3 separate regions of the Homo sapiens genome follow, and all the other regions are linked to region 1. Evidence: fine-mapped expression QTL. A gene starts in region 1. Each other region holds a variant in brackets. All regions are shown on one strand. Distances are from middle to middle.

Evidence for each region. PIP is the estimated chance that this variant, and not a neighbour inherited with it, causes the effect.
Region 2: its variant is fine-mapped to the expression of XPO6 in whole blood (TOPMed, PIP 0.99).
Region 3: its variant is fine-mapped to the expression of XPO6 in whole blood (TOPMed, PIP above 0.99). The same link has a PIP of 0.9 or more in breast, esophagus mucosa, pancreas, skeletal muscle, subcutaneous fat and sun-exposed skin.

What each region holds. Positions count from the first base shown.
Region 1 is chr16:28,206,885-28,217,602 of GRCh38, forward strand. XPO6 (exportin 6) reads right to left here and starts at 5,081. Exons shown (of 24, transcript NM_015171.4): 1 at 4,482-5,081. The coding sequence starts at 4,484. RefSeq lists silencers at 2,024-2,318, 4,829-5,318 and an enhancer at 4,201-5,199.
Region 2 is chr16:28,137,021-28,147,738 of GRCh38, forward strand. XPO6 (exportin 6) reads right to left here. Exons shown (of 24, transcript NM_015171.4): 9 at 9,074-9,183. Among named protein-coding and RNA genes, the nearest start is that of XPO6, 70 kb to the right of the region's middle. RefSeq lists enhancers at 4,606-4,655, 9,549-10,064. The variant T/C (reference allele first, on the strand shown) is at 5,242.
Region 3 is chr16:28,150,263-28,160,980 of GRCh38, forward strand. It overlaps XPO6 (exportin 6), which reads right to left. Exons shown (of 24, transcript NM_015171.4): 7 at 5,812-6,265; 8 at 2,397-2,523. Among named protein-coding and RNA genes, the nearest start is that of XPO6, 56 kb to the right of the region's middle. The variant G/C (reference allele first, on the strand shown) is at 5,534.

The sequences.
Region 1 (10,718 bases):
CCATGTGAGTGGCTAAATTTCAGTTCTGATTCTGCCTCCATTACAGGGGCCACTCACGGTAACTGATATTAAAAAAATAAGGCTAGGTGTGGTGGCTCCCACCTGTAATCCTAGCACTTTGGGAGGCCAAGGTGGGCAGATCATCTGAGGTCTGGAGTTCGAGACCAGCCTGACCAACGTGGTGAAACCCCATCTCTACTAAAAAACACAAAAATTAGCCGGGTATGGTGGTGGGTGCCTGTAATCTCAGCTACTCAGGAGGCTGAGGCAGGAGAATTGCTTGAACCTGGGAGGCAGAGGTTGCAGTAAGCCAAGATCGTACCACTGCACTCCAGCCTGGGTGCAAAAGCAAGATGCCATCTCAAAAAAAAAAAAGGAAAGAAAGAAAGAAAGAAAACAAACCTTAGCAGGCAATTCAATTTCTAAGCAACTAAAAAAGAAATGCTAATATAAGCAAAAACTCAATTTTGCACACAATTTTCATATTAAGCAACAGCTCGCTCAATACTAAGTAATAATTTCTCAGCAAAGTAGTGGGAACCTCTAACATGTCACACCACTTAAGAATCCATGGGAATGCAACAAAAAATGATTTAATCAAATACAGTTATAGTATGCTAGCTCTTCCTGTAATTCTATACTGCAACTATAAATCTTTTTAAACTGGTTCTAAATGTGAAGGTCAACAGGGATAGTGTAAACAAAATTCCCCATACTCCCTATGCTCCACCACTATCTATCTCTAAGCCAAACAACATACAGGTGGAAGACTCTCCTGATCTTCCTTCCCATGAGGCAGCACCCAAAGAGCACAGGCTCCGGAGTACAGCACTTTGGGTCTAAATGCCAACTCCACCACTTGTCAACTAGGAATCACAGAGCAGGTCTGTCCATCTCCCGCTCTGGCAGGAACAGCCATAGTGGAACCTAGCAGAGTTGGTGGGGTTTACTGATACTGAATGACTAAGAGAAAAACTTGGCCAGGCGCAGTGGCTCACGCCTATAATACCAGAACTTTGGGAGGCCAAGGCGAGTGGATCACCTGAGGTCAGGAGTTCGAGACCAGCCTGGCCAACCTGGTGAAACCCCATTTCTACTAAAAATACAAAACAAAAAAAAAAACTAGCTGGGCGTGCCTGTAATCCCAGCTACTCAGGAGGCTGAGGCTGGAGAATCATTTGAATCCAGGAGGCAGAGGTTGCAGTGATCCAAGATCATGCCACTACACTCCAGCCTGGGTGACAGAGCGAGACTCCGTCTCAAAAAAAAGAAAGAAAAAACAAGTAATGAGTGAAGAATAGCTAGCACATCAAAGATGCTTAATAAGTGGTAGTTTTTATCACATTACGCCACTTTCAAGTCTTATTAGAGTTGAAGATTTAAAAAGAAGATGTTAAAAGGGCTCAAACTTATGCCAACTAATACCCTTAAAAGTAAAAATGTTAAGTCAGCAAGAAATGGAGAGGAAATAATTTCCTGGAATAAAGAGCTGGGATCCCAGGGAAAAGACCCTCCGCCTGTAAGACACCAGCCAGGCAACAGTTTCCTTACCTTTGGGGGACAGGGCCTACCCTACCCAAGCCCCTGACCCTGGGATACCTACAGATGAACCACTGTGTCAGTGACACAAAAAGGACAATCCTATTCACATCAACTATGGCCACCCCCTGTGTACTTAAATAACTGAGGTCTAGGTGACAAAAACTTTGACTTGCAACGTACCTCAGAAAAAATGCACATGGAGTTCATGAAGCCAACTACTTTACAATTCATTACTCAAAGGTGGTCATTCCCATGATGCTCTACTGACTGCCAATTAAAATGAAACCTCAATACAAGGGTGCTGGGCTAGCTCAGTCAATAACAAAATTCTGTCCAAGGGTCCTAAAGCAATGCTGTAAGTTTCCCAAGGGGAGGAATGTGTGTCTTGTTCATCTGTACATGCCCTAGGCCCTGGTATATGGTGGTGGCTACTGAAAATTCACTTGTAAGATTTGTACACCCATATTCACAGCAGTATTATTCACAATAGCCAAAGGGTGGAAGCAACCCAGGTATCCACCGAAGGATGAAAGGATATATGAAATGCAGCACATACTCACAATGGAATTCAGCTTTCAAAAGGAAGGAAGCTCTGACACACGCCACCACACGGATGAAGCTTGAGAACACTGTGCCATGTGAAATAAGGCAGTCACAACAGGCCAAATACTTCATGACTCCACTTACATGAGCTACCTAAAGTAGTCAAATTCATAGAAATAGAAACTAAAGTAGGGCAGGGGAGAGACTGAAAAAAGACGGGTACAGGTTGTTTTGGGAAAAAACCTTTGGAGATATATGGTGGTGATCGTTGCACAACAATGTGAATGTTCTTAATTTCACTAAACTGTACACTTAAAAATGGTTAAAATGGCTAATTTTAATTATGTATATTTTACTACAATTAAAAAACAAAACTTAAGTATATTGAGGCCGGGCGCGATGGCTCATGCATGTAATCTCAGCACTTTGGGAGGCCGAGGCGGGTGGATCACCTGAGGTCAGGAATTCAAGACCAGCCTGACCAACATGGTGAAACCCCATCTCTACTAAAAATACAAAATTTAGCCGGGCATGGTGGCGCATGCCTATAATCCCAGCTACTCGGGAGGCTGAGGCAGGAGAATCACTTGAACCCGGGAGGCAGAAGTTGCCGTGAGCTGAGACTGCACCACTGCACTCCAGCCTGGGCAACAACAGCTGAACTCCATCTCAAAAAAAAAAAAAAAAAAAGCATTACTGAAAGAATAAATGAAGGAAGGAATGAGTGCTACTTTCATTAGCCACTAAATGTTATACCTCATACCTCTAGATTACTCTTTAGAGAAATCCTATCCCCAAATTTCATAGTTGAGGAAATTGGAACTGAGAGCTTAACTGATTTGCCACAATTCATACTGTGTAATATATATGTTAAAATACATAGACTCAGCTGTGCACGGTGGCTCACGCCTGTAATCCCAGCACTTTGGGAGGCTGAGGAGGACGGATCACTTGAGCTCAGGTTCAAGACCAGCCTGGGGAACGTGGTGAGACCTCATCTCCACAAAAAATTAGCCAGGCATGGTGGCACTTGCCTGCAGCCCCAGCTACTTGGGAGGCTAAGGTGGGAGGACTGCTTGAGCCCAGGAGGTCGAGGCTGCAGTGAGCCATGAACGTGCCACTGCACTCCAGCCTAGGAAACAAAGCAAGACCCTGTCTCAAAACAAATAAAAATAAAACACATACACTATACGTATAGCATATACTGTACGGTGCTGCTCAGCATTAATGGTGTACTTTACCCAGCTGGTTGTAAGCTCCATATCTCAGGACCTACACACTACCCACAGGCCCCTTGAATGTTTCGAAAATTCCACAGGCCTTAAGGTCTGTATCACAAAAGATGCAGCTATGTCCCTTTCTCTATTATACCACTAACTTGGCAGGGGTAAAATGGGTGAAACTGAGGAGAACAGCTCCACTCCTCGAGGTGCTCAACCACAGGCTAGGTGATCCAGTACTTACCAAGGGCTTACTATGTGCCAGGAGCTGGAGCAGATAAGGGTTCAAACAATTTGGTCTTTGAAGGAGCTGTGTATACCGCAATAGACAGATAAGGCTCAGAAATAATTACAAGAGCAAAAAGGCAAATGCTTAACAAAGAGATGTGGGTACACACATTTAGGGGAGTATTGAAAGTATCGGTCTAGAAAACGTGGAGATGTGGATACACAAAGAGATGTGAGTACACACATTTAGGGGAGTATTGAAAGTATCGGTCTAGAAAACGTGGAAGGTAGCTTCAGCAGAGATCAGAGCATGTAGAATAGCAGCCTCAGTGTCAAAAGATCACGACCATTCCTGACTTTGCCATCACCTGTGCAAGTGACCTCTGTAAATCGCTCTGTTTCCTCATATATAAACCTACAGCTAGATGAGATGTTTCTCCTACAATCACCCAGCTCTCTAAGTGTATTAGAGATGCCTAGGTTCAAAGTCAGATGCCTAGGTTCAAATCTTAACACTGTTAAAAAGTCGCTTGACCTTGAGCTGGGGAATTAATTGCTCCGTGCCTCAGTCTCCCCACTTCCGAACAGAGGGCTGGTGTGATCATTAAATACTACTGCACTGTCAATCACTTCGCGCAGGGCCTTGGCAAGTAGTAAGCCCTCAATAAACGATAGTTATTATCCGGAGGAGCTGCAGGAGGCAAACACCAGATGCAAGGGTTGTGCCTGCTGCGCTCCCAGGGCCCTCCCAGGCCTGAGCCATCATCCCTGGGGGGATGGGAGCGCAGGGCCGGGGCTGCACACTCTGCACGCATGTGTCACCGGCCAGGCTCCGCACGCGCCTCTCCCCGCCATGGGGAGAGCAGCGATGGCTCAGCAGCCCCGGGGCCCATTCCCACCCTTCCGGTAGGGCACCCCAGGAGGGAAGGGGGCTCCAATTCCACTTACCATGCTGGCCGGGGAGGGGGCGGCTCAGATGAGCTGGTTCTTGGGCTTCGGACACGTCCCGCTCGCACAGTTCAGGTCATGGTCCCGGCAGACTCGGGAAGTCCCCCACCCATGCAAAGACAACCCCTTCCCCACCGGGCCCCGAGGGGACCCTCTAAAAAGGGCAGGGCCGCCCGGGTCGCCTCATCGGGGGACCCCGAGACAATTCATCCAGACCCACCCGCCCCTCCCCAAGGAAACTGAAAAAGCAGGAAATGAGGCTCGGATGCCGGCGAGGAGGGCAGCTGCTCGGGACCCCCGCCCGGGCCCGACCCCCGCGGGGGAGGCTGCGGGCCCAGGCAGGGGCTCCCCGGCCTCCGCGGGCAGAGGTGGCGGCGGCCCCGGCCCCGAGGCTGAACGGGCGGAGGCTGACAGGCCTCGACCGCGCGGCCCAGGCGGCCGGCTCAGGGGAGAGGCCCGGGGGCCCGCGCTGTCCTCGCAGCCTCAACCCACACGGCCACTGCCGCCGCCCCCTAGAGCATCCTTGCGCGCGCCCGCCCTGGAGCCGCCCGCTAGTACCGCGCGGCCGCCCCCGACCAACAGCCCCAACGCGCCGGAAGTGGCGAGCGCCGGGCGGCCCCACAGCGCGGCCGCCGGGCTGCGGCGCTGGAACCGGACCAATCCGGAATCGAGCGGGGCGAGCGGGGGGAGCGGGCGGAGGGCGGAGGGCGGGGCTGCACCTGACGGCTCCCACTGGCCCCGCCTTCTTACCACGCCCTCTCTTGCCCCGCCCCCTGCGCCCACCGCCCGTGCGTCCACGCGGGCCGGCAGCCATCTTGGTAAAGGGAGCCCGGGCTGCCATTTTAGTAAAGGCGTGGTTTCCCTTTCGCTTTTTTCGCCCATTCATTCCGCTAAAATTTTAGTGAGTGCCTTTTACGGGCGGAGCATCGAGCTGGCAGCGTGACGACACGCGGCCCTATGGAGCTTACATTCATGCAGTCCACACACTCTTGCCCGACTATATTCCAGGCCCTGCTGTGGATGCTAGGACAGGGGAGATAAACGTAACTTCGATAGCCAAGGTGCTGAGAGAGGCAGAGAATGTGTTGGATTCCTGTTCCCATCCTCCAATCCACTTTACTCGTGAAAGTGCTCATCTTTATTTTGTTTTATTTTTGGGGACAGGTTCTTGCTCTGTTGCCCAGGCTGGAGTGCGGTAACACAATCATGGCTCACTGCAGCCTCAACCTCCTGGTGCGCCACCATGCCCAGCTAAATTTTTTTATTTTTTGCAGAGGTGAGGCCTCCTTTTGATGCTTGGGCTGGTCTGGAACTCCTGGGCTCAAGCAGCTTTCCTGCCTCAGCCTTCCAAAGTGCTGGGATTACAGGTATGAGTCATCCAGCCAGGCTGAAAGTGCTAATTTTAAGAAACAGTCAGGAAACTATCCCAAACAGCTGAGGTTGAGCCCGCGGGTGTGCCTACTACATAGATTGGAGCAAATCTATGTAACCCAATGGCCCTTGTCAACCTTAAATAACGAGATTGAGAAAATAGTATTTAAGTATAGGGTTTATTCAAGCCCGAAGCTTGAAGATGGCCCACCAGAAGTATAGTCCAATTAGTGGCAGTTACAAATGGGGTTTCCTTGTTTGTTTGTTTGTTTTTAAGACAGGGTCTTGCTCTGTCGCCCAGACTAGAGTGTAGTTTGTTGTTGTTGTTGTTTGAGACGGAGTCTCGCTTTGTCGCCCAGGCTGGAGTGCAATGGTGCAATCTCAGCTCACTGCAACTTCCGCCTCCCGGGTTCAAACGATTATCCTGCCTCAGCCTCTCGAGTAGCTGGGACTACAGGCACCCACCATGATGCCCGGCTATTTTTTTTATTTTTAGTAGAAACGGAGTTTCACCATAGTGGCCAGGCTGGTCTTGAACTCCCGACCTCAGGTGATCCGCCAGCCTCGGCCTCCCAAAGTGCTGGGATTACAGGCGTGAGCCCTCCCGCCTGGCTTCAAGTGGGTTTCTAAGGAAAAAAGAGGCATAACATAAGGTTGAATAGGAATGATGAGAAAGGGGGAAAAAATAACATAAGCTATTGCCTATACATTGTTCTTTGTATCACAAATTTCAGGAACCTGAAGGAAATGGGGGAGGCAGCTAGTCTGGAACAAAATATCTTTAAACAATTGTCCCCGAGCATGTGGAGGTGGGAGTGTGCCCGAACTCCCATACACAAGTCTCAGTGGACCTGACAAATTTTGCATACTTCACATAACTCAGACTTCCCTGAGCTATTTTTCTTTCCTGTCAAACCTCAGTGTGATCTGAATCAATTCACCCAGAAGGACTGTTAAAACAAAGATTACTCGCTCCACTCATAGACTTTCCCATCCAGTAGGTTTGAGATGGGGCTGAATAATTTGCATTTCTAACAAGCTCCCAAATGAAGCTGATGCTGCAGGTCTAGATACCACATTTGGAGAACCACTGATACAACACTTTACCACTGAAAGCAATAGCTTTCAGGGGTTTTTTAGTTTTTTGTTTGTTTGTTTGTTTGTTTGTTTTTGGAGAAAGGGTCTCACTCTGTTGCAGTGACATGATCATGGCTCACTGCAGCCTCAAACTCCCAGCCTCAAGCACTTTTTTTTTTTTTTTAATGAGACAGAGTTTCGGTCTTGTTGCCCAGGCTGGAGTGCAATGGCATGATCTCGGCTCACCGCAACGTCCGCCTCCTGGGTTCAAGCAATTCTCCTGCCTCAGCCTCCCAAGTAGCTGGGATTACAGGAGCCCACCACCGCACCCAACTAATTTTTTGTATTTTCAGTAGAGACGGGGTTTCACCATGTTGGTCAGGCTGGTCTCAAACTCCCGACCTCAGGTGATCCACCCGCCTCGTCCTCCCAAAGTGCTGAGATTACAGGCATGAGCCACCGCGCCAGGCCATCAAGCACTATTTTTTTTTCTCTTGAGAGGGAGTTTCGCTCTTGTTGCCCAGGCTGGAGTACAATGGTGCAATCTCGGCTCACTGCAACCTCTGCCTCCCAGGTTCAAGCAATTCTCCTGCCTCAGCCTCCCAAGTAGCTGGGATTACAGGCACCTGCCACCACACCCAGCTAAATTTATTTTTGTATTTTTAGTAGAGACGGGGTTTCGCCATGTTGGCCAGGATGGTCTCACCTCCTGACCTCAAGTGATGCGCCCACCTCGACCTCCCAAAGTTCTGGGATTACAGGCATGAGCCACCATGCCCAGCCTCAAGCACATTTATTTTATCAAATCTTTATTGTTGTCCACTAAGTGACAGTCACTATTTCAAGGATTCAATGCTGAGCAAAACAAATATATGTGTGCCCTTATGGAATTTAAAGACAAATTATTTGTAAAATATTGTACAATAATGGATCAGTTATTGTGATAAGAGCAATGAAGGAAAAATTGAAACTAACATGATATAACTTTAATATAGTTTACACGCTAATAAGGCCAAGGGATCTAAAATAATCTGGCAGATTAGGATGGGGAGGAAGTCAGGAAGTGACATTTCTTTAAGCTTTGGCCTTAAAGAAGCAGGAGTTTGCTAGGCAAAGAGAGGGGGCATAGAACATTCCAGGCAGTAGAAACAGCATGTACAAGAGAAGCCATCTCAGTAGGTAAGCTGATGAATCGGAATGGAGGCCAAGTCACTTACTTGGCTTAGTTTAGTAGGATGAGTGAAAGCTTTGGGTTGAGACTCATTTGGAGTGGAATCCAGCTCTTAACTTCACTAGCTAAGGTATCTTGAGTTATTGACTCTCGAAGTCTTGGTTTCCTTACTGTAAAATTGAATGAGATAACAGAAATGCAACTGACTCACTTAAGGGTATGCCTTTGGGTTACATAACTGGACTTCCAGAGATTCATTAGCTTTTGGCTGGGTGTGATGGGAGGCCTAGATCCATTCCTCTAGGATTTTCTTTTTTTTCTGTGTGTGGTTTTGTGTGTGTTTGTTTGTTTGTTTGTTTGTTTTGTTTTGTTTTATTTTTTTGAGACAGGGTCTCAGTCTGTTCTCCATGCTAGAGTGCAGTGGCGCAATCACAGCTCACTGCAGTCTCGACCTCCCAAGCTCAAGCAAGCCTCTCACCTTAAACTCCCAGTTAGCTGGGACTACAGGTGTGCGCCACTATGCCCAGCTGATTTTTTTTTTTTCAGCAAAGACAATGTCTCACTGTGTTGCCCAGGCTAGTCTCCAACTTCTGAGCTCAAGTGATCTGCCCACCCCGGCCTCCCAAAGTGCTGGGATTACAGGCATGAGCCACCACGCCCGGCCATTCCTCTAGGACTTCCTTGCTCTGCTCTTCTCCATTATCAGACTTGTTGTCAAGGTGGTTGCCAGGAACAGCCAGGGCCACAAAATTCCCTGTTCAAATCCAGCAAAAGAGAGCACCTTTTGGCCGGGCACAGTGGCTCACACCTGTAATCCCCAACACTTTGGGAGGCCAAGGTGGATGGATCGCTTGAGGTCAGCAGTTTGAGACCAGCCTGGCCAACTGGTGAAACCCCATCTCTACTTAAAAATACAAAAATGAGGCTGGGCATGGTGGCTCATGCCTGTAATCCCAGCACTTTGGGAGGCCGAGGTGGGTGGATCACCTAAGGTCGAGAGTTTGAGACCAGCCTAGCCAATATGGAGAAACCCCGTCTCTACTAAAAATACAAAAAATTAGCCAGGTGTGGTGGCGCATACCTGTAATCCTAGCTACTTGGGAAGCTGAGGCAGGAGAATCGCTTGAACCCGGGAGGCGGATGTTGTGGTGAGCCGAGATTGCACCATTGCACTCCAGCCTGGGCAACCAGAGCAAAACTCCATCTCAAAAAAAAAAAAAAAAAAAATTAGCTGGGCATGGTGGCAGGCGCCTGTAGTCCCAGCTACTCAGGAGGCTGAGGCAGGAGAATTGCTTGAACCCAGGAGGCAGAGGTTGCAGTGAGCCGAGATTGCACCACTGCACTCCAGCCTGGGTGACAGAGTGAGACTCCATCTCAAAATAAAGAAAAAAGAGAGAGCACCTTTCTCACATCCTTTCTCAAGCCAAGAAGCTTTCCCTACTGATCCTAATTGGCCTAGGCCTAGTCCCCCGGATCTAGCCGTAGTGAAGGAGGGTGGAACTGCTATGAGTGGCTTATAGAATCCCCTGGAGTTGCTTTCAATTCCTCAGAATAAACTGGATGTGTGGAGTCACCACATCATAGCTCCATTGCCAGGCTGGGGTGAAGATTTAATTTAATGTACATAAAACACCTGGCACATGAGGCATGAGATAAGTCACAGCTATTATAAATTTGACTCCAGGGATTTTGTTCAAGTAAACTAAATAACATTTTGTTATTAATATTAATCTGAAGCCTGTCTTATTCCAAAAAAAGATTTAAGGCTGCTATTACTTTTAGTTGGCACTGCAGGGATGGCCCCCAGCCATCTCTGCCTGCCTATTTCTATTGCTACTGCCTTGATCGCCTGCATTTAGTTATTCATTCAACAAACTTTCAGTGAGTTAGTATTAGCTTTGTGCCAGGCCTTTTGCTAAAAATGAAGTATTTAAAGTGAATAAGAATCAGGCAAATTGTCCACTGTCTGGGTCAGCAACAGCCACCCAAATAATTACAGCACATTGTGAGGTGTGTATGAACTTCCTAAGCGTACGAGGAAATGGGGAGGAAGCAACAAAGATGGTAACCTTTGGGTTGGGTCTTGATGGACGAATAGAAGTTCACCTGGCTGCTGCAGTCTTCAGTCCTTTTCCTACTCCAAGCTGTCTTCCACTGTGTCCGTTTCATTGCAAGTAACAAGGTGGGGACCCTAAAGTTTGGACTCTTAACAGTTGAAGAAGAAAAAAAGAATGTATTGTCTCGTAAAACGCCATCCAAAGGTTTGGATGAATTTCAGATATGGTGGATTCAGGGTGTGAATATCACAGAATTCAGTTTCTCTCTGTTCGTTGGTTCTGCTTCCTTGACTGGGGGTCATTTATCCTCATGGGCCCTGGCATATCTAGGCTTTCCCTTCTTCCAGGTTGAAGCCTGGTGGAGAGAAGGGCATATGCATCTCCTACAAATGTCGTAGAAAAATAAACCCTTTGTCTTTGATTGGGTCACATGCCCACTCCTGAACCAGTCACCATGGCCTGGGGAGTGTGATGCCCTGATTGGCTAATCTTGGGTCACATGTGCCACCAAGCTCCAGAGTAGCTCTTTCAATGGCCAACATCTCTCTCTCTCTCGAGCTC
Region 2 (10,718 bases), 70 kb before region 1:
GGGCTTGCTGTCCTGGCAGTGCTGCCCCAGCAACAGACACCTGGCAGAAGCAACTGGTTCCGGTTTCCAGCTTCATTCCACATTCCCAGAACTAGTATCGTGCACCCTCAGAGGTGGAGGCAACACCCTCTCCTCAAAGGAATGGTCCCAGTTCGAAAAGATCCCTCCTCTGAACTCCTGTGGCAGCTAGATGGGGCCCTCTCTTCAGAGATCTGAACCCTAGTTGCTCAGGGACCAAGCAGTGATCTTCCAGATTTTGACAGCCCCAGCTTCTTGCCTTTGTACTTCTAGCCTTAGGGGTGAAGCCACTTCCTGTACTTATCAACTGTGTTATCTCAGTGTTTCCTCTGAAACCTATTTAATCAATTTCCTAAAATGAATTTTCTGTTCAAATAATTAAGTATGGTTTCTGATTTCCTGACAGGACTCTAATACACCACCCAATCTAATACAGTTGAGTACTGGGACAACATGATAACCAAAGTTAAAAGATATCCAATACCAAGACCAAATACAGTCCATTTAGTCCAGGAGGTACAGCCCATGTGATGAGAATCAGTCTACAGACCACTTACAAATCCTCCTGGATTGTCCCATTTCAGATTTTGGTGACCAGAGTATCTTTTTTTTTTTTAACTTAAAAATTTAACCTATGCCAAAATTGACATTTGTATTTATTTACTTATTTTTTAACATAATTTCAACTTTTATGTTAGATTCAGGGGATACATGTACAGACTGGTTACCGGAGTATACTGCGTGATGCTGAGGTTTGAGGTATAACTGATCTCCTCACCCAGGCACTGAGCATAGTACCCAATAGCTTTTCAGCCCCTGCCCTCCTCCCCACTCCCTCTCTATCAGTCTCCAGTGTCTGTTGTTGCCATCCTATGTCCACGAGCACCCACTATTTAGCTCCCGACAGCTCGTTTCTTAACTAGAGACAGAGACACTCCCTACTTGCCCATATCCAGCAATGACTCCCCAACTGTATGCAAACGACTTAACAACCTAACACACGCCAGCCCTAAAGTAGACTAGCAACTGAACAGGGCCCAGGAAAGAATGCCGGCAGGGAAAAAGGCACTAATAAAATCTGCAACGTCTGTGGGAAAATTCACCCAATAAAGTCAAAATCCCACTTAGTAAACTCCATAGAAAGGTAAGATCAAACATTTAGGCCTAGAGTTTATGTTTTTGCCTTTGTTCAAGACATAAATTTCTAAAGTTACAGAAGTTCCACACTATAAATTGCTGTGACAGATCAAAATATTTCCACAATTCTCCTAGGAAAGAAAATCTACTTCAGACCAGAGGACAGATGAATTTTGTCATCTATAAATTGTCTTGCTGTGCTAAAAGGAAATTTAGAGACTTTCTATGCAAATGTAACCCTAAATTAGACCTAAAATCTTAACTGGCAATTGGCAACTCTGGCTGCAAAAAAAACCCGTATCGCTTAGAAAATTAAGTCCAAGTAGGAACCAGGCAAACATGCACATAGATCACTGATCTCCCAAAGTGTCATGTGGGAGGTGGAGAAAGTATATGGCTGTGGCAGACACTCTGGTTGCCTGCCCAATACCCATTCTCCTTCCTCAGCAAGAGAGCACTGGGTATTGAGGCCAACTCAAGGACAACATCTCCCCTGAAGATGGGGGCGGTCAACGAGAGCCTAAAAGCAGCTACTGGGTGGGACTTCTAAGAAAGCTTCTTTTGCCCAACCTATCCCACTTCTCGTTCCTACTGCCTGAATCATGGGTATGATGTCTGTAGCATCATCCAGCATCCATCTCTGACCATAAGATGATGATGGAGAGGGAAGCCACGCCTAATGGTAGAACAAATAAGTAAGAGGATTCAAAAAATTACTTGCTACTCAAAGAGACACAACTTCTCAAGGAGAAGACAATCGACAGATGCCAACCTCAAGATGACAAAGGTGTTGGAATTATCGATGACTCTAAAACAGCTATAATAACAATGCTCCATGAGGTTCCTCTATGGTCTGAATTGTGCGACTCTTCCCCCAAAAAGTACTCATTCATATATTGAAGCCTAACCCTCAATGTGTCTGTATTTGAAGACAGGGCCTATAAAAAGGTAATAAAGTTATGTGAGGTCAAAGAGTAGGGCCTTAATCCAATAGGACTGTTGCCCTTATGAGAAGATGAAGAGACACAAGGGTTCTCTCCCTCCCTTTCCTCACATGCACACAAGAAAGGCCACGTGAGCATTCAGAGAGAAGGCGCCATCTGCAAGCTACCAAGAGAGCTCACAGAAACAGAATCTGCCAGCATCTTGAAGTGGAACTTCTAGACTCCAAAACTAAGAGAAAATAAATTTCTGTTGTTTAAGGCCAGCCTGTGGTATTTTGTTATGGTAGCCCAATCTAACTAATAGAGAAGGTAAACAATATGAGAAAGAAACCTGGAACTTCAAGAAGGAAGGAAAAGCAAGAGAAATGGCAATGTCTGGGTAAATCTAATAGACTACTTCTTTCTTCTTAAGAGCTATAAAATATGAATGATGGGTACGTGTATAAATTAGAACACTGTCTGGTGGGGTTTTCCAAGTATGTATATGTAAAACCTCAATATAAAGAAGAGAGGCTAAAGGACTCTAATCTATATGGTGGTAAGGTTTCCATACCACCCTTGTGGTAAAATGTGACTCTGAAAAGTTAAGTATATATACTGTAATACCCAGAGCAACCACCAAAAAAACCCACATAAAGAAATGTGGTCCAACACTCAATAGACACACTGGAAAAGAAAACTAAATGTGTATGCAACTAACAGAGTCTCAAAATAAATGAAGCAAAAACTGATCAAACTAAAAGGAGACAGACAAATCCAAAATTATTTTTGGAGAATTCACCCCCCTCTCAGTAACTGATAGAATAAGTAGGATAAAGACAACATGTACAGGCTGGGCGCAGTGGCTCACGCCTGTAATCCCAGCACTTTGGGAGGCCAAGGCAGGCGGATCACCTGAGGTCAGGAGTTCCAGACCAGCCTGGCCAACGTGGCAAAACCCTGTCTCTACTAAAAATACAAAAATTAGCCAGGCGTGGTGGCGGGCACCTGTAATCCCAGCTACTTGGGAGGCTGAGGCAGGAGAATCGCTTGAACCTGGGAGGTGGAGGTTGCAGTGAGCCGAGATCACACCATTGCACTCCAGCCTGGGTGACAGAGCAAGACCCCATCTCAAAAAAAAAAAAAAAAAGACATGTACAAATTAAACTAGAAAACAATAACAAAAAGGTATATGGAAAATCCCCAAATATTCGGAAACTAAACAGGAAATCTCCAAAGAAATTAGAAAATATTTTAAATCAAATGAAAATTAAAATGTAACATTAAAATTTGAAGGATAGCCGGGCGTGGTGGCTCACGCCTGTAATCCCAGCACTTTGGGAGGCCAAGGCGGGCGGATCACAAGGTCATGAGATTGAGACCAACCTGACCAACATGGTGAAACCCTGTCTCTACTGAAAATACAAAAATTAGCTGAGTGTGGTGGTTTGTGCCTGTAATCCCAGCTACTCGGGAGGCTGGGGCAGGAGAATTGCTTGAACCCGGGAAGCAGAGGTTGCAGTGAGCCAAGATCACGCCACTGCACTCCAGCCTGGTGACAGAGTGAGACCCCGTCTCAAAAAAAAAAAAAAAAATTTTTTTTGAGGGATAAAGCTAAAGCAGGGCTTAGAAGGAAATTTACAGCATTAAATGCTTATATACACCACAGAGATAAGCCTATAAGCCTCAAGTTCTGAGAGTTAAATAAAATTATACATGTTAAGGCAACTACATAGTAGGTGCTCAATAAAATATATATGAATAAAGAACAAATGAACAAAGAAATGAATGAAAAACACACAGGTGATAAACAGACAAAATTCCAAGTCAGGTAAATACAAAGGATTGAAGCATATTCCTGGATAGCTTTTTCAACTCAATAAAGCAACTAAGACTCTATTCACTTGCCCTGTGGGGCAGTCAAGAGCAAGAACTAGAAAGCTGCTAGAGCTCTGATCTAAACCTAGTTCACACCTTTATTGCACCACAATGTCATGTGTAACAGTGGCACTTCCTCTTTATTAAGCAGGTTCACCCACTCCAAAAAGCAAGGAGCAGTTTTTCTCACCCTCACTCACATTTGTTTACAGTCCTATCTAATGTCACCAGAATCCCTACGTTGGTTTGTGGCCAGCACTTGCCAGAAGTCTAGTCACAAAGAGGCTCACAGAACATGACACAATGACTTTAGGTTGCTTCACACACTCAGGTTTCTTCACCTTCCTGTAAAAATAAGTTTCTACACAGGTGACTCCCTTCACATTGACAAGCACAAAGAGCCGGAAGTGAGAGAGAAAGGGGAGGTGAACCAATGCTTATTTGCTGAGCACCTACTGTCAGCCAAGGCACTTTACGCTCATTAGTTCATCCCACTTTCTCAACAATCTGTGAGGAAGGCACAACCATCCAAAAGCACAAACAAGGAAAGGGAAAGGAAAATCCGGGCCTTTCCATGCCACCACCTCAAAATACAGATCAGGATGATCTACCCCATCGGCCATTCCACTCTGCAGGAATGGCTACAGAACATTTACCCCATTAACACTGGGGCTCAGGCTCTCTCAAGTCCCCACAGTCTCTCATCAAGAAATTCCTCTCACACCTGTAATCCCAGCACTTTGGGAGGCCGAGGCGGGTGGATCATGAGGTCAGGAGATCGAGACCACCCTGGCTAACACGGTGAAACCCCGTCTCTAATAAAAATACAAAAAATTAGCCGGGCGTGGTGGCGGGCACCTGTAGTCCCAGCTACTCGGAAGGCTGAGGCAGGAGAATGGTGTAAACCCAGGAGGCGGAGCTTGCAGCGAGCCAAGATCGCGCCACTGCGCTCCTGACCAGGCAAGTGAGCATGCAGAGCTCCAATTTCCAAGCTCCTAGGACCAAAAATAAATCTATGTATATTTGTGCTTCTAAATTTGTAGCCTACAATGCTTACCACTTTGTTGTGATGAATGATGCAAAACCTTTAAACCACAGGGGACAGGAAATGAGTGCTGCCTTTGTGACTTAACCACACCTACATTTCCCATTTAAGACAGCAAGAAAACATTTTTGACTACTTCCTGCAAGATTAGTTGCTTCTGAAATATGATTCCAGAACATCCCAACTTCTCTCTGGTATATTTTATCAGTTGACAAACATTTGATCACATGTGCATGCTCT[T/C]AGTTAACATAAATGTGGTCATCACCAGAAGCCAGTGTTCTTCAGCAGCTGCTCCTGCAAAACAGCATATCTCTGATATATTAAGAGTCTCTCATAGTCTGGAGTGGTGAATGTTAAGGGTTACAGAAAAAATTATAAGCTGAAGTTGAAATATTTTCTTTGTGCAGCCCACTGGACTAACACATGTTCTTTGTAGTCTACTGTCTTAGACCACTAAGGGGTATCTGACAGGACATGCAGTTCCCCAGACGGTGGTTACTATTTAACAGCACTAACCAGAGGAGCTTGGAGGGGTTTTTGTTGTTGTTGTTGTTTTATTTTATTTTAGAGACAGAGTCTTGCTCTGTCGCCCAGGCTGGAGTGCAATGGCATGATCATAGCTCACTGTGGCCTCCAACTCCTGGGCTTAAGCAGTCCTCCTGCTTCAGCCTCCTGAGTAGCCGGGACTACAGGCATGCACCACCATGCCTGGATAATTTTTGTATTTTTTGTACAGACAGAGTCTTGCTATGTTGCCCAGGCTGGTCTCAAACTCCTGGGCTCAAGTGATCCTCCCACCTTGGTCCCCACAAGGAGCTGGAACTACACGTGCACACTACCATGTCTGGCTAATTTGTTTTTTAAGTTTTTGTAGAGACAGGGTCTCATTATGTAGGCCGGGCTGGTCTCAAACTCCTGCCCTCAAGTGATCCTCCTGCCTCAGTCTCCCAAAGTGCTGGGATTACAAGAATGAGCAATGGCACTTGGCCTGTTGTTTTATTTTTCAAAGGCATAAAGGCATTATATGAAAGTGTTATGTTTAAAAAAGAATAAATCATGAAAAATTAAAAAGCCTCATTTAGGATGATAATCACATGATCAATGAGAAAAATTCCCACTGTTTCAAGTGGTCAGCCAGAACAACTGACAACTGTGACATTAGACAACAGATGCCAGGGCAGGCAGGTAAACATCTGCAGGTGGGCTAAAGGCCTTTAGACTGTCCAGGGGCCATGCCACCTAACGCTACAGTCACAACCACAGTCTAAAGGCAGTAACATCTTCTATTATTCATCATTGCTGTTGTCATCACTGTGACCATTTACTGAGTGCCTAATACATCTAGATGCTGTGCCAGGTATTTTACATACATGATTTCCTTGAATCCTAACCATCCTGCAAGAGAAGTGTTAAGTACGTCCATTTTGCAAGAGGAAATGTGATCAGCATATAACTTGACCAAAAGTAACACGGCTAGCCTAAAGCAAAAAAAGAATTTAAATTCTCTATACCACTGCTCTATTAGTATAATGATCTGCAAAAGTGTGTGTTTAATACTAATAATCTGCTAGTATATATTTTCTCAACAGGACCATATTCTTCACATCTCTCATTTGTACTTTGTTTTTGTTTTTTTAAACAGTCTCATTCTGTCGCCTAGGCTGGAGTCCAGTGGTATGATCTTGGCTCACTGCAACCTCTGCCACCCGGGTTCAGGAGATTCTCCTGCCTCAGCCTCCCAAGTAGCTGGGATTACAGATGCCTGCCACCACGCCCAGCTAATTTTTGTGTTTTTAGTAGAGACAGGGTTTCACCTTCTCAGCCAGGCTGGTCTTGAACTCCTGACCTCGTGGTCCCCCTGCCTTGGCCTCCTAAAGCGCTGGGATTACAGGCAGGAGCCACCGCACTCGGCCTTGTACTGTTTTTTAAAAAGCATTTTCATATTAATCATTTCCTCAGTTTATTCTCACAACAAGCTTGAGAGATATGAAGGAATATCTACCACTAAATATAGAAAAATGAGGCATAGTCCCAGAACCAAAAAGATATGCCTATTTAGCATGCAAGAAAGATTATTTTGGCAAAAGTAACTTTTCCTTCAAGAATCTCATTTCAAAAACATAATTACTTAAAGTTGGCAACTTCACCAAAAACAGGATCTCCTGTGTGTAATACGATTTCTGATATATGAACGTACTACCTATAATCACACATGTGACCTGACACCATAGCAACCTGGAACTTATTCCACAATTACAAAAACCATCTTTGGGAACAAAAGAACAAATGTTTAAACTTGGAAAATAAAATTCTCAACAGAATATTTGCATATTTATTTATTTTAATTTTCAATAGAGACAGAGTTCAGCAAATGGTACCAGTGACTGGTACCAAGAGACACAAGGAGTCTCACTATGTTCCCAGCCTGGAGAGCAGTGGCCAGCCACAGCGTGATCACTGCACACAACAGTTCTGAACTCCTGAGCTCCAGCGATTCTTCTGCCTCAGCCTCCCATGTGGCTGAGACTACAGGTACATACTACCACATCTAGGTCCTGTTTAGAATTTTTTAAACTCATAAAACCTCAGCAATGGAAAAGCCTTTGGAGTTCCAGCCCAACCTTTTCTCTGCAGTGGAGTCTCTCCTCTCCACCTTCCTCCATTTGGTACATTTATGGGGAAAGAGTATTCACTAACACCACCACCAGGTGAACACTTGCAGTGTGCCAAGCATTCTAAATATGTTAGTTCGTTATTTCAATTAATGTCTCAACAACTATTATTTTCATCCTCATTTTACAAATGAGGAAACAGAAGCTTCCACAGGCTAAGTACCTTACCCAAGTACCCCTAGGTAGGAACTACAAAACCAGGATCCAAACATAGGTCTGTGCGATTCCCCGTCATGGCTTCCACTCGACAGAACCCCCTCATGCACTGGTTTTACAACACAATGACCACCTAATCTGAAATTGCTCTTATAAATACTGTGCAAAGAAGTAGGAGCTATAACCAAACTGAGTAAAATCTGCAGGCACTCTGTTAAGTATGATAAAGTACTTAGGGCTAGATCACCTAGTTTGTAATCTCATAGCATAAATATACAAATTACACGAATCAGTTTTAGTTTATTAGGAAACTACTCTGATCCTAAAATGCAAAATATAGCTTCTTTGCCTCCTTCATGACTGCCTGCTCACTGTGTGACTGGGATGCAGTCACCTACTGAGACTATGATGGGTATGTTTCTGCTAAGAAAAGCTGCCACATTTACTTTCCCCATATATGGATGCTGCCATTATTTTCCTGGCATGCTGAATCTCCACCTTCCCCTCCTCTTCTCCCCACCCTGTGGCACAAAGAACATATTGTACAGGAAATATACTCTCTTCCTGCAAGCAAGAAAAATGGGTTTGAGAAACATATGGGGGGGGAAACAAACCATTCCGCATTCTCTGTTTTTTAAAAATACAACAAAAAGTGCAAAAGCAATTATCTCTGGGGTGTGGGATTATGTTTATCTTCCTTACATTTTCCTATATCTTTTCCTAGATTTAAAAATGAACACCTTTTTCTTAACAGGTATTTATTAATTTATTTAGGAAATTTTCAAACACATACAAATGGGGTAAGAACATAATGAACCCCAAGTTCCTAGGAACTAACTCCAACATCAATCACCAACACATGGGCAGCCTGTTTCTTCTCTACAGGAACCCACTTCCCTTCTACCCCCACTGGGTTATTTAAGCAAATCCCAGATGTCATATCATTTTATCCAATAAATACTTCAGTTTGTATCTCTAAAATAAGGGCTATTAAAAAATTAAGAACATTAACACAAATGCACTAAAATATAAAAAATTAGTAATACATATTACTTTTAAAATTTTAAAAAGTCTTAACAAAATACTTAAAGGAGAAAAAAAAGGAAATGCTCAATGGCATTATTGCCTAAACAGCTTACATGACTCAGCTTCACTGAAAAGGTCCAAATGCATGGCTGTCTCTTAGGCCACTAGAATAACTGGCAAAATGACCATATCTAGTTTTCAGTGTTTGAGGAGTTTACCTGTTGAGAACTGCTTCCTTGTCTCCAAGACGACTTTTAATTTTACTTGTCAGATAGTCCAAAAACAGCGTCCAGATATCCAAACAAGAGAAGTAACCTTCATGAGTAGGCTATGGTACAAAAAAAATCCAGACAATGAAATTATTTAATGCTACTATTCCTTAGAAACACACACATGCCAGTGTTTAATTCCAGCAGAATGATGAAATCATAAGCCTAGATTCCCCAGTTTCCTGGTAACCAAAACTGGTGGCTTTTAGTCGGTCTATACCATTGGGCCCTCCTGAACCTTACAAGACAAGGGTACCATGGAACACATCATGAGGGAGATACTGTGCAGCATAAACTGAGTTATAAAATAAGTCAAGCAAAAACCTATCTTAAAATCTGAGACTGGTAGAGAGGGCTCTTACAGATCATCTAGTTTAAATCTATTTTCCAGAGAGAAATCGAGATTCAGAGATATAAGTTGTTCAAGGCCAGAGGTAAAAACAAGTCCCTTTACCCCCAGCCAATGCTCTTTCCATTACAAACCATTACGAAAGCAAAAATCAGTTTCAGTGGCTCCAAAGGTGACAGGTTCACACATTTGAATGTAAGGAAAGTAACACTTGCAGTCTTCCTACAGAACAGACTGAAAATGAGCTCATTAAGTCTGACCCTCAGGGCATTATCCCATTTGCAAAAGCAAGGGTGTCAAACGTGCTAATAGCAACCTCCAACCAGGTGCTGATGTGGAGGAACAAAGTGAGAAGTCTTTGTAGGATCCTAGTAGTACAATGAAGACCACTGCACTAGTTAACTTTCTCAAGGGCTCTGAGACTCTATTTCATGCAAAGTCCAGGCAACACAATCTCCAACAGCTACTCCTTCCCCTATGCATTCAGGTTCAACTTGTGGCTCCAAACCCTGATATCTCCACTCAAATGCTCACTACCTGAAAGACTCCTTTGGTTTTGCTGGTGGCTGTCTCACTGGACCACATATTTGGTGACAAGATCAAATATGAAAATAAATAATAACATGACCTTCTTGGATCAGTTTCTTTCCATTGCTGATCCACATGGAAATCTAGACGTTTACAAGGGCATACATGGAGGTGCCCAAGAAATAACTAACAATGGGTGGTGGTATCCAGTGGGAGTTCTGTACCTAAGCTGAAGTCTGAGACAGAATAAGTGTAACTTGGCTGGGCGTGGTGGCTCATGCCTGTAATTCCAGCATTATGAGAGGCCACGGCAGGTGGACTGCTTGAGACCAGGAGTTCGAGACCAGCCTGGGCAACATAGTGAGACTCGGTGTGTATATTTTAGAAAAAAAATTAAAATAGGAAAGGAAAGGAAGAAAAAGAAAGAAAAAAGAAAAGAGTGTAACTTAAAAAGCCAGGCAAATTCCAACTTCACGACCCAAAGGGTAGCTCTGGAACTAGACAGGACCAACCTCAGAAAACAAAATGACCAAGTCCTGTCTCTACCTCATACTTGGCAATACTGACAATATCCACGACATGAAGTGAACCAGGAGAATAACCAGGAAAAACAATGAATAAGCCACATGGAAATGATACGGCAGCCAGACCGAGTGGCTCACATCTGTAATCCCAACACTTTGGGAGGCCCAGGCGGGTGGATCTCTTGAGGTCAGG
Region 3 (10,718 bases), 57 kb before region 1:
TGACGATTCCAGGTACAGAGAGGAGGAAAGAAGCTTGTGGTTTGCTTCATGAGCATACTTTTTCCCCAATTACTTTCCCAATATATAAATATAATATATAAATATATAAAACCACCATTTTCAATTCGATGACACATAGGAGTCTACTGAAAGAATCATAAAAAATAAGCCAGGGGAAAGGCCTGAAGATGTCCACTGCAGTCTATTTTCTTAGGTGAGGAAACTGAAATCTAAGTAAATTTAAGGTTTCTCCAAGGACACAGAACTAATAGAAATAAGCAGACCTCAAACACAAAACTTTTGGGTCCAATCCAAAGAATCAGGCATAAGACATGCCTACTTTAAAAGATGTTTCACTTTCTTCTATACTATACACACCAGAAGACCCCATTTTACATAGAGAGTGAAATGTCAAGACATTGTCATTCCATCTCCCCCAAGTAAGCCTCCTGTTTCTGGCCTCAGAACTGGCTCCTCAGCTCCCTCATTTCTGTTACGCTATTTAACACTCACTCAACATTCTCTCAAATCCTCTTTTTTCATGGTCTCCTTTAAAATTCCTCTGGATGTCCCAAAACTGTTCCACCTCTGATGCTTCTCCCCTACATCCTCACCCTCCTGCAGTCACTTCAAGTTCTCCTGAGGACTATGACCTCGGCACGGCTCTCCTCATGCTCTGCACGCACTTGCCCCTCTACCTGACACCTCTGAGCTTCTTCAAGTTTTGGCCTTCCCTCCCCTGCTCCCAGGACTGGCTCATCCTTACCACTGGGTCCTCTTCTATTTTCACATGCCAAGATCTTCCTTGAGAAAGGACAGCTTTCCCAACAAACCCCTGCTCCAAGTCATATACACAACCCTCCTAGCCTAGACCCTTGCCTTTCCTCTAGACACATTAAGCTACAACACTAGTGGTTAAAAAAAAAAAAAAAAAAAGGCTACTTCTAAAATCAAATGTCCTCAGTGACCCATTAGTTTCATCCCTGGTACATATCAACTAAAACAGCTATCTGTGTACATCCAAAAGCACGTACAAGAATGTTCACTGCAAGATCAGTAAGCACTGGAAGCAGCCAAATCAGCAGGGGAGTGAACTTGCAAACAATGACTTAACAACAGCACAACGAAAATCAACACATGACTGCCACACACAACGCAAACGAAGCTCACAAACACGATGGCCAATAAAAACACAGATAAAACATACATTATGTGCTTTCATTCAGAGAAGCTCTAAAACAGGCGAAACTAGTCTGTGGTATTAAGGTCAGGCCTGGGGTTACTTCTGGGGAGAAACGAGGGGAAGTGATTGGAAAGGACATGAGGAGATTTCCTGGTTGCTGGCAACAATGTACTTCTTGACTTAGGTGATGGTTACATGCATATGTCAATTTGGGGAAAACTCATCTAACTACACCTAAGATTTATGCACTTTTCTGTATGTGTGTCATACTTCAATAAAAAGCTTATTTTAAAAACACACAGCTGGGCACGGTAGCTCACGCCTGTAACACTGGCACTTCAGGAGGCCCAGACAGGAGGCTCACTTGAGGCCAGGTGTTCAAAGTCAGCCTCGTCAACATAGCAAGACCCAATGTCTACCAAAAACTTTAAAAACTAAGATAAAACACACACCAACAGGCACGGGGGATAGGATGTGATAGAAATATCTAAAATTGTACTGTGGTGATGTTTGGACAGCTCCATGAATTCACTGAACATCACTGAGTTATACAATTACAATGAGTGAATTTCATGGTATATAAAATTATACCTCAATAAAGCCACATATATAATTTTATATATTTTTTATGTGTGTGTGTGTGTACACACACATACTAGAATGACTAGGGTCACTAGAATGTAAGTAAACTCAATGCAGGCAAAGACTGCTTGTGAAGGTTGTATGTCTAAATCCTGGAATACAATAGGAGCTCAAAAAATATTTGTGAGGGGGAGAAAAACTTGGACACTACCAAAACTTAACTCTTGAGAGCTTCACTATATATAATCTTCTTGAAGGAGGTTTCAGTGGCAGTTACAGAACAGAACTAAAGGCCGTAATTTCAGACTTTTCCTTTCTTTTGCTTTGTTCACATAATAGTGGTCAAGAGCCCTGACTCTGGGTTCAGATCCCAGCTCCACCACTTACTAACTGTATGACTCTAAGCAAGTTACTCTTTGTGCCTCAGTCTCTTTACCTGCAAAACAGAGATGACAATGGTAATAGAACCTACTTCACAGGGATGTTAGGAAGATTAAACCTGTGACTCTTCACATAATAAGCATTATATTAATGTTTGGAAAATAAAGTTGAAAGAAAAAGTTCTTTCTTCTCAAAGTAACAAGGTAATAAACCTTTTCTCTGGAAGGGAAGGATGACTTTGGTGCTTTACCTGATGAAATGTGTACTTGAACAAAAGTGTCAAAAACTCCACCACAGGGAACTGGGAGTAAGACTCGATTCTTCTTAGGTGAACACTCACAAAGAGCCGAAGAAAGTCAGTAAACTTCTCGATATAGCTAAATGAGACAAGACAAAAGGTGACAATAAGAAACCCAGCCACCTCCTTAGAACTTAAATTCAATCCAAAGTTCTTTCAGTACAGAACTATACAAATTTGTAATATATTTTCTTTTAAAAATATAAAGGCCTGCAACAATTACCTACAGGACAGGCAACCCTTCATTCCATTAACCACCTGAAACATAGCAGAAAAGCAACTTTAATCCTCAGACACTGTCTGCTAAGGCTTCTTATAATCTAGTGCGCTCACATTTTCTAAGTCATTTGTGTTGTGACCCAATTAAAGTGAAGGGAAATGATAAAAAGTTGATGGGCAGATCACTGTGTCATTTCAATCTGGCAAGTCTAGAAGGCTGGTTTTCTTTCCGGGAGGCCAAAATACTAAAGTGAATGGTGCTAAAGACACAAAAACAAAACCAGGCTACGAAGGGCATGGCATCCAGGTAAGATGTACTCAGGCTTGCAACTTAATGGCCATTTTTCCCCCTTTGGTTCCTGGTGCTAATTAAACACAGCACAACCCAATACTCTAAAAGTGATTTCAAATATAAGGGAGGAAGGCTATTAGAACTGGGCAAGCCTCAGGGACTTTAGTCTGATGCTTCCGTTTTGCAGATGAAGCCCAGAGAGGTAAAGTGACCAGCCCAAAGTCACTCAGCCAACTCATGGCAGAACAGGACTATCATCCACTCCCAATCCAGTGCTCTTTCTTTTCACTTCACAGTGAATCCCCAACTCATTTGTATTCACAAAATCATTTCACAGAAGAGTATGGGTCACAGCTGCAAGGATAAGAGATCTCTGTTATTAAATACACAGCACATCATCACTCTCACATTTCAGAAACTGTCATTTTAAGCCCCTAAATACCAAAAGGTGATTAGAAAATGAGATGGCCATACCTTCATAAATCACATTTCAGAGACCAACACAAAAAGGTAAAGACATACTAGGCCTTAGCTGAAAATGAAATAATGGCTAAAAGCAATTCTGAAGCTCATTACTGCAAAAGCTATTTTTCAAAACAGAGATATGTGAAATAATAAAAGCAGAGAAAACTACTACTCAGAAAAGCAAAACTGGCCCGGAAATAAAATGTCCCATGTTGCTCCTGGGACCTATCTCCCTGAGGGTGGCCAGCCTGCCTGCCTGACCTCTATGCGGCCGAGCTTATTTGCAGCTTTTTAAAAAATACATATTAATTTGTTTTGATAAAGAGAATGGCTGTCTCTGTGGATCATGGGGCCAAGTACTCGAAAAACAGTAAGGCACTAAAATCAACTGTTTTTAGAGACAGGAACATACAAAGACACTTCTCTCTGGTGTCATCAATCACTAATACTCAAGAGTAGGAACTCCTTCCTCACTCACTTATGTACCGCATGATAGTTTTACATGGATATTCAAAGTCACCACCCAGCTGACTGTTCTTTAGGAAGGTGCACTCAATTCCCTACTACCCATTTAAAAAAAAAAAAAAAAAAAAAAAAGCCATGGGCTAAATACAGAACAATCTCAATTTTACTTTAGTATCTAACCCAATTTTTTAAAAATACAAACAAGGCTGTTCAGTAGCTAAAACTACAGATTTTATTTCACCTCATTTTCTTTCCCTTGCCCACCTTCTGGTACAGGTGCTAATGAACAGTAGAAAGTTAGGGGAAAAGGCAGTAGAGGGAAAGAGAAGCCAAGGATCTGGTTAGCAGCTCCTAAACAACTGAGAATGGACTGAGCTGTTTAGAATTAGTGGTAGGGGACCCAGAGCCAGGAAGCAAGCACACAGCATTATTTATGTCACCTTTCTGCTCCCAGGCACCTCTCAGCTTTCACAGGGCAATAGGAAGCACAGGATTAAAATGTAAAACCAAGAGCACAAAAGTTACACGTAACAACATCAGTACATAGACAATCCATAATGACATTTCTATACCATCCAAATGGAAGCCACAACAAAGTTGTCTGTGACTACATTATGATTAAAGTCAAAACAACTGATATTTGATAGTTGATACAAGCAGCTAGATTTTTAAATTAACATATGAAGAGATAGACATGAGACACACAGATCATTAAAAAAAAGGTAATACAGCCTTTCTTAACCACAGACAGAAAGAATATGAAAGTGTGAATAATGATGCCTTTGAATTCATATGGAAAGCTATCACCAAATAATTTTTAAGAACATATTACCATATCAGATTGTGTTCTTATACAGAGCAAACATCACGGTTTTACAATAAACCAAACCAAAATAATCTTATGTACCAATTTTTTAATTTTAGAAATATTTTACAAAACTGCCCAATTTAAAAAGCACTACAACTTTCAACTTTATGCACTTGATTTTATATTCTGCTATTTACTCTAAGGAAAAGAAAATAGCTTAATTCTATATAGCTTAATAACAAAGGACAATCTAAGGAAAACTGAGAATATTAGCAACTTTTGCTGCCATGTCATCTGTAAATATTTACTAATTCGATACGATTTATTGCTTGAAAGTCCCTAAACCGTCAATCTGATTGTTCATAATATAAGTTTCCAAATTCCCTCCTGTTTTCATACAGCAGCAGTTGTAAGATACATAAATGACCTCATCTGCAAGAGACATAAATCATGAAACCCTGCCTCAGAGTACTGTGATGGAGTCGTCTTTTAGAGTGCTTTTAAAAAAAAAAAAAAGTAGGTCATTGTAGGCTCCACTTGAGAGGACAATAACAAAGAAACACAGCTGTGTGCTACATTAACCTGTGCACACATTAACATCCCTCCTATAGTTTGATGAAAACTTGCCATTGGTGTAAAACTCACAATAACAACAACATTCCTGAATACTGCAGGATGTTCACTTGGGAAAAGTCAAATAGTAAAAACTGACACCAAGTGACAAAAGGCGATTATAACTCCTGTACCTCCACGGACCTCTTCTCCTGTTCTTGGCTACGCAGGAGCAGCAGTCTCAGTCCCTGCACCACCTCAGACCTGCAAGCAAATAGTAAGGAAAAG[G/C]GGGCAAGAGGAGTAGAAGGGAGGACAGGAGATGGATGGGGAGAAAAGACAACAAACCTACACAAGGCACAAGCATTTTTCAAACTCAGTCACTTCCCTTAACCACCCAAGCCCTTCCAGCTAATCTCAGACTTACTGGCACACACCTACCTTTCTGTTCCTCACCAGGAGCCCCATATTCTGAAATCAAAGAGGATTACAGATGCCATGCAGCACAGCATGGTAAACAGTCAGGGCCCTTTCTTGGGGCACACCAGCTCCACACTTGGTTTCATTACCTCTCATCGAGCTCTTCTAGCCTGCTCTTCACTGTGTGGGCATTGTTATCCTTGGTGATTTTCTGCAGGAGGTAGAAAGTCTGCTGGAACATACGCAGTAAATACTCCTCAAATTCCATAGGCACACAGTTCTTGGACATGAGTTCATTGATGCAGGACATGGCCAGGACCCCCAGCCGGCCGCGCTCCTGACCCGAGACACAGTTCTGGCTGCTGCCGTTAACTGACGCCATCTTTCTGGCCCGGATGTCACAGCCAAATCGTGCAAAGTGGAAGATGGTGGTAAGGAGGGATGGGGTGATGCTGGCAGACAGAGGAATCCAACTGAAGAGATGGGCCAGGCACTCCAAAGCCAGGGAACAGATATACTCACTCTCCACATCAAGGATGGGAATTGGCTGATTCAACAGTTTGGCTGAACTGGGACTCTGCAACAGGTTACTCAGTAAGTCACCTGAAAATAAGAAAGGCTTTTAAGCTATCCAGCATCAAATCTCTTACAAATGACTTTAAGTAATTCTCCTTCAAAAAAATATATATATATATGTATACATATATGTATCAGTTTAGTTACCTATGAAATAAAAAAATAAAATCTATATGCTCAAAGTTAAACACTAATTAGGAAATTTTAACAGTACAGCAAAAATAAGATAATTGATTATGATTCTTAGTGAGGGGGATCTGGATACAATCTTTAGTGTTTTGACTCAAATTTAGTTTTAGTGAGATTTGTACAACAGCAGTTTCCCAGGAGACATAAGTGAAGAGAAGATGGGATTATTCTCTGGCTGCAAAACCCCAAATCCACTCAAGTTTTTGTTTTCTTGCTACTGTTCCCCCAAATCATGACCTTGCTTTTGAAAAGCATGATACATGACCATTAAATAAATAAACAAATAAAAATCCCTAACACCACATACAAAGTTGGGCACCAAATGAAGTAAAGACTTAAACCAAAGATAAAACTTTAAAGTTAACAGAAGAAAATATAAGAGTATTTGAAATATAAGAGAGAAAAAGACTCCTTAAAACTACCAAAAAAGAAAACCTTAACAAAAAATACTGAGGAATATAACAAAATTAAGATTTTCTAATCAAGGCTGGGCGCGGTGGCTCATGCCTGTAATCACAGCACTTTGGGAGGCCGAGGCGGGTGGATTACCTGAGGTCAGTAGTTCAAGACCAGCCTGACCAACATGGTGAAACCCTGTCTCTAGTAAAATACAAAGTTAGCCAGGCATGGTGGTGCATGCCTGTAATCCCAGCTACTTGGGAGGCTGAGGCAGGAGAATCGCTTGAACCCAGGAGGTGGAGGTTGCAGTGAGCTAAGATCACGCCATTGCACTCCAGCCTGGGCATCAAGAGCGAAACTCCATCTCAAAAAATAAAAAATAAAAATAAAAAAAGAGTTCCTAATCAATGAAAAACATTAAGGGAAAGTTACCAGGCAGACAACAGACTGTGAGAAGATATTCACAATTTCTAACATCGAAAAGGACTAAAAACTAAAATCTATTTTTAAAATGCTACACATCAGTAAACACAACAACCCCAGTACAAAAACAGGCAGTTGATATGGAGAGACAATTTTCAGAGAAAGAAACTCCAAAGCATATGAAGAGATTTCAAATTCATTAGTAATCAGAAAAAGCAAATTAAAAGGAGTCTGAAAAAATGTTGGCAAATGCCAGACGTCAAGTACAAGGAATGGATGCAGGAACCTTCACAAGGCGGTGCAGGAAGAAGGGCCATTCTGAGGAGGACCTGGCACTCTGGAGTCCTATTAAACATTCACATATCCTTTCACCTGACCATTCTCCTGGTATGCTCCCAAAGCAACCCTCACACGGGTCCATGAAGGGACAGGCGTGAGGGGGAGAGCTGGAGGCAGTCTGGCCTCCTCCTTGGCGGGAGAGGATAGGGAATGCAGAGTCAGGTATCATATCACACAGTGAGCAGAAGTAGAGGACTAAGGCACAGACGGGCAACAGCTTGGAGAGACCTTAAAAAGATACAGTTAAATTAAAAGTAAGAAACAGAATGACAGTTTTACTATACCACTTACATATTAAAATACATGGACACAAAACAGTAAGTTCTTACAAGAACATGTTACCAAACAGAAGACAGAGGTTATCTACATTAAAATGGCTGTTGATTACGGGGAAGGGAGTCCACAAATTCAAAACTATTTTTAAAGGAATACTAAGATGTTCTTTTCCTTTTTCACTTTCATTATCTCCAAGTGTACAATGGAGCTTTCCAGAGGCTACATCACATGGGATATTGCAACAGATGAAATGCAGAAGCTGCCTTTCACTAAGCCACATGTTAGAGATTTGCAAAACTGTAAAACAACACCACTCTTCTCAGTGAATTTTTCTGTTTGCTTTGAAAAATATAGTTATTTTTTATTAAAGCATATTATCTGTTAATATGTAATGGGTTCATCACAGATATTTTTAAATGAATTAATGACTATTTGTACATTTTTCTCAGTTTTTCTATCAGCAGATATAACTTACAAAGTGTTTTGAGGACCTCAGTAATTTTTTAAGAGTCAAGGGACCCCAAGACCCAAAATTGGAGGACCACGGGGCTACTCTGTGGACCTGGACCAGTAATGTAATCAGGGAACTTGTCAGAAATACAAATCATCAGGCCCCATCCCACACCTACTGGAGTAGAGCCTGAAGGGGTTGGGGCCCAGGAATCTGTGTTCTTATAAGCACTCCAAGTGATTCTTATGCTTGCTTGATTTTTGAAAGCACTAGACTAAAGGAAATCAAACAAAATGAAACAGGGGAAAAAAAGCTATAAAATTATTTTAGAGAAGACAAAAGAAGAAAAATATTTAAAACTATAACAACAGGCCAGGAGCGGTGGCTCACACCTGTAATCCCAGCATTTCGGTAGGCTGAGGCGGGCAGATCACTTGAGCCCAGGAGTTCAAAACCAGCTTGGGCAACATAGCGACACCCCGTCTCTACAAAAAATACAAAAATTAGCCAAGCATGGTGGCACATGCCTATAGGCCCAGCTACTCAGGAGGCTGAAGTGGGAGGATCGCTTGAGCCCGGGGAGGTCAAGGCTGCAGTGAGCTACGATTTTACCACTGCACTCCAGCCTGGGTGACAGAGCAAGACTCTGTCTTTAAAAAAAGAAAAAAGAAAAGAAGAAAAAAAACTATAACAAGAAGAAAAATTTCCTGAAATTTGACATGACTCTACAACATGAAAGGGTTTTATCCTGTTCCAAGAAAAAAATGATGAAGAGTGATCAATACTAAGAATGTTTAAAATGAGGAAGCAGTGTAGGCAGAAAAAGTACAGATACAAAGGAGAAAACACCTCAGTCAGACTTCTCCACAGTAACATTCACAGCATGGGGACATTCTCTCAAACACGCAAAAACTCAGGTAACTCCACAAATTCTTCTCAAGGAGGATAACAGACAAAGAAACCACACAGATAAAGAGATAAATCAAAATAAAGAATTAAGGAATGGAGAAGCTGTAGCAAAAGGACACACTGGCATCAAATTACATAGAGACTCAAGACTAAACAGACGTAGGAATTAAGAGGGTGCGCTAGCTAACTTTCCCATCTTTCACAAGGAAGAAGTCTCAAAATACATGGTCTAAAATTAAACATGGTGGCGGGGGGAGGTGATACATAAAATTCAAACATGTAGTACAAAATTGATTTTTATCATTTTTTCTTAACCATAAAGGTATCTTTTAGAAATTAGTATTTCTTGTAGAAAAAGCACCTCAAGGTCAGCAATTCCTTAAGTTTAACAATTTTTGTTACGTTTAGGTAAAACCTGGCCGGGCACAGTCGCTCACGCCTGTAATCCCAGCACTTTGGGAGGCCAAGGCGGGCAAATCACTTGAGGTCAGGAATTCGAGACAAGCCCGGCCAACATGGTGAAACCCTGTCTCTACTAAAATACAAAAATTAGCTGGGCGTGGTGGTGCGTGCCTATAATCCCAGCTACTCGGGAGGCTGGGGCAGGAGAATTGCTTGAACCCGGGAGGTGGAGGTTGCAGTAAGTAGAGATTGCACCACTGCACTCCAGCCTGGGCAACAGAGCAAGCCTCCGTCTTAAAAAAAAAAAAAAAAAAAAAAAAAAATCAAGTAAAATGCTGGGTACTGTGGCTCACACCTGTAATCCCAGCACTTTGGGAGGCTGAAGCGGATAAATCACTTGAGGTCAGAAGTTCCAGACCAGCCCGGCCAAAATGGTGAAACCCCATCTCTACTAAAAATACAAAACTTAGCCGGGCATGGCAGCTGCCACCTGTAATCCCAACTACTCAGGAGGCTGAGGCAGGAGAATCGCTTGCCCCTGGGAGGCGGACGCTGCAGTGAGCCAAGATCATGCCACTGCACTCTAGCCTGGATAACAAAGTGAGACTCCATCACCAAAAAAAAAAAAAAAATCAAGTAAAACTAAAATTTAAATGTTATTAAAAAATATATAATCTGATGCCATTTTTGTCTTTTTATCTGTCTTATCTCTGTGTAGAGATGTCTGGAGTGATCAAATATTATTTGATGTTCTTTCTATGTAAGATACTGGGTAAATGTTTACATTTTATTTTGTACTTTACAGCACTAGGTCTCAAATGTTTGGGTTTCAGAAGTCCTCACTCTTAAAAATTACTAAGCATCCCGAAGAGAAAGCTCTTAGGAGCATTACTTCTATTGATATTTGCCATATTAGAAATTAAAGCTGAGAAGTGTTTAAATATTTAATTCATTTAATTACAAAGCCATCATGTTAGCATAACATTTTTAAATGAAAAAAACTGTATTTTACCCAAAAATAGTGAGAAAGGTAGTACAGTTTTTCTATTTTTGAAATCTCTTTAGTGGCTGGTTTAAAAGATAACTAGACTC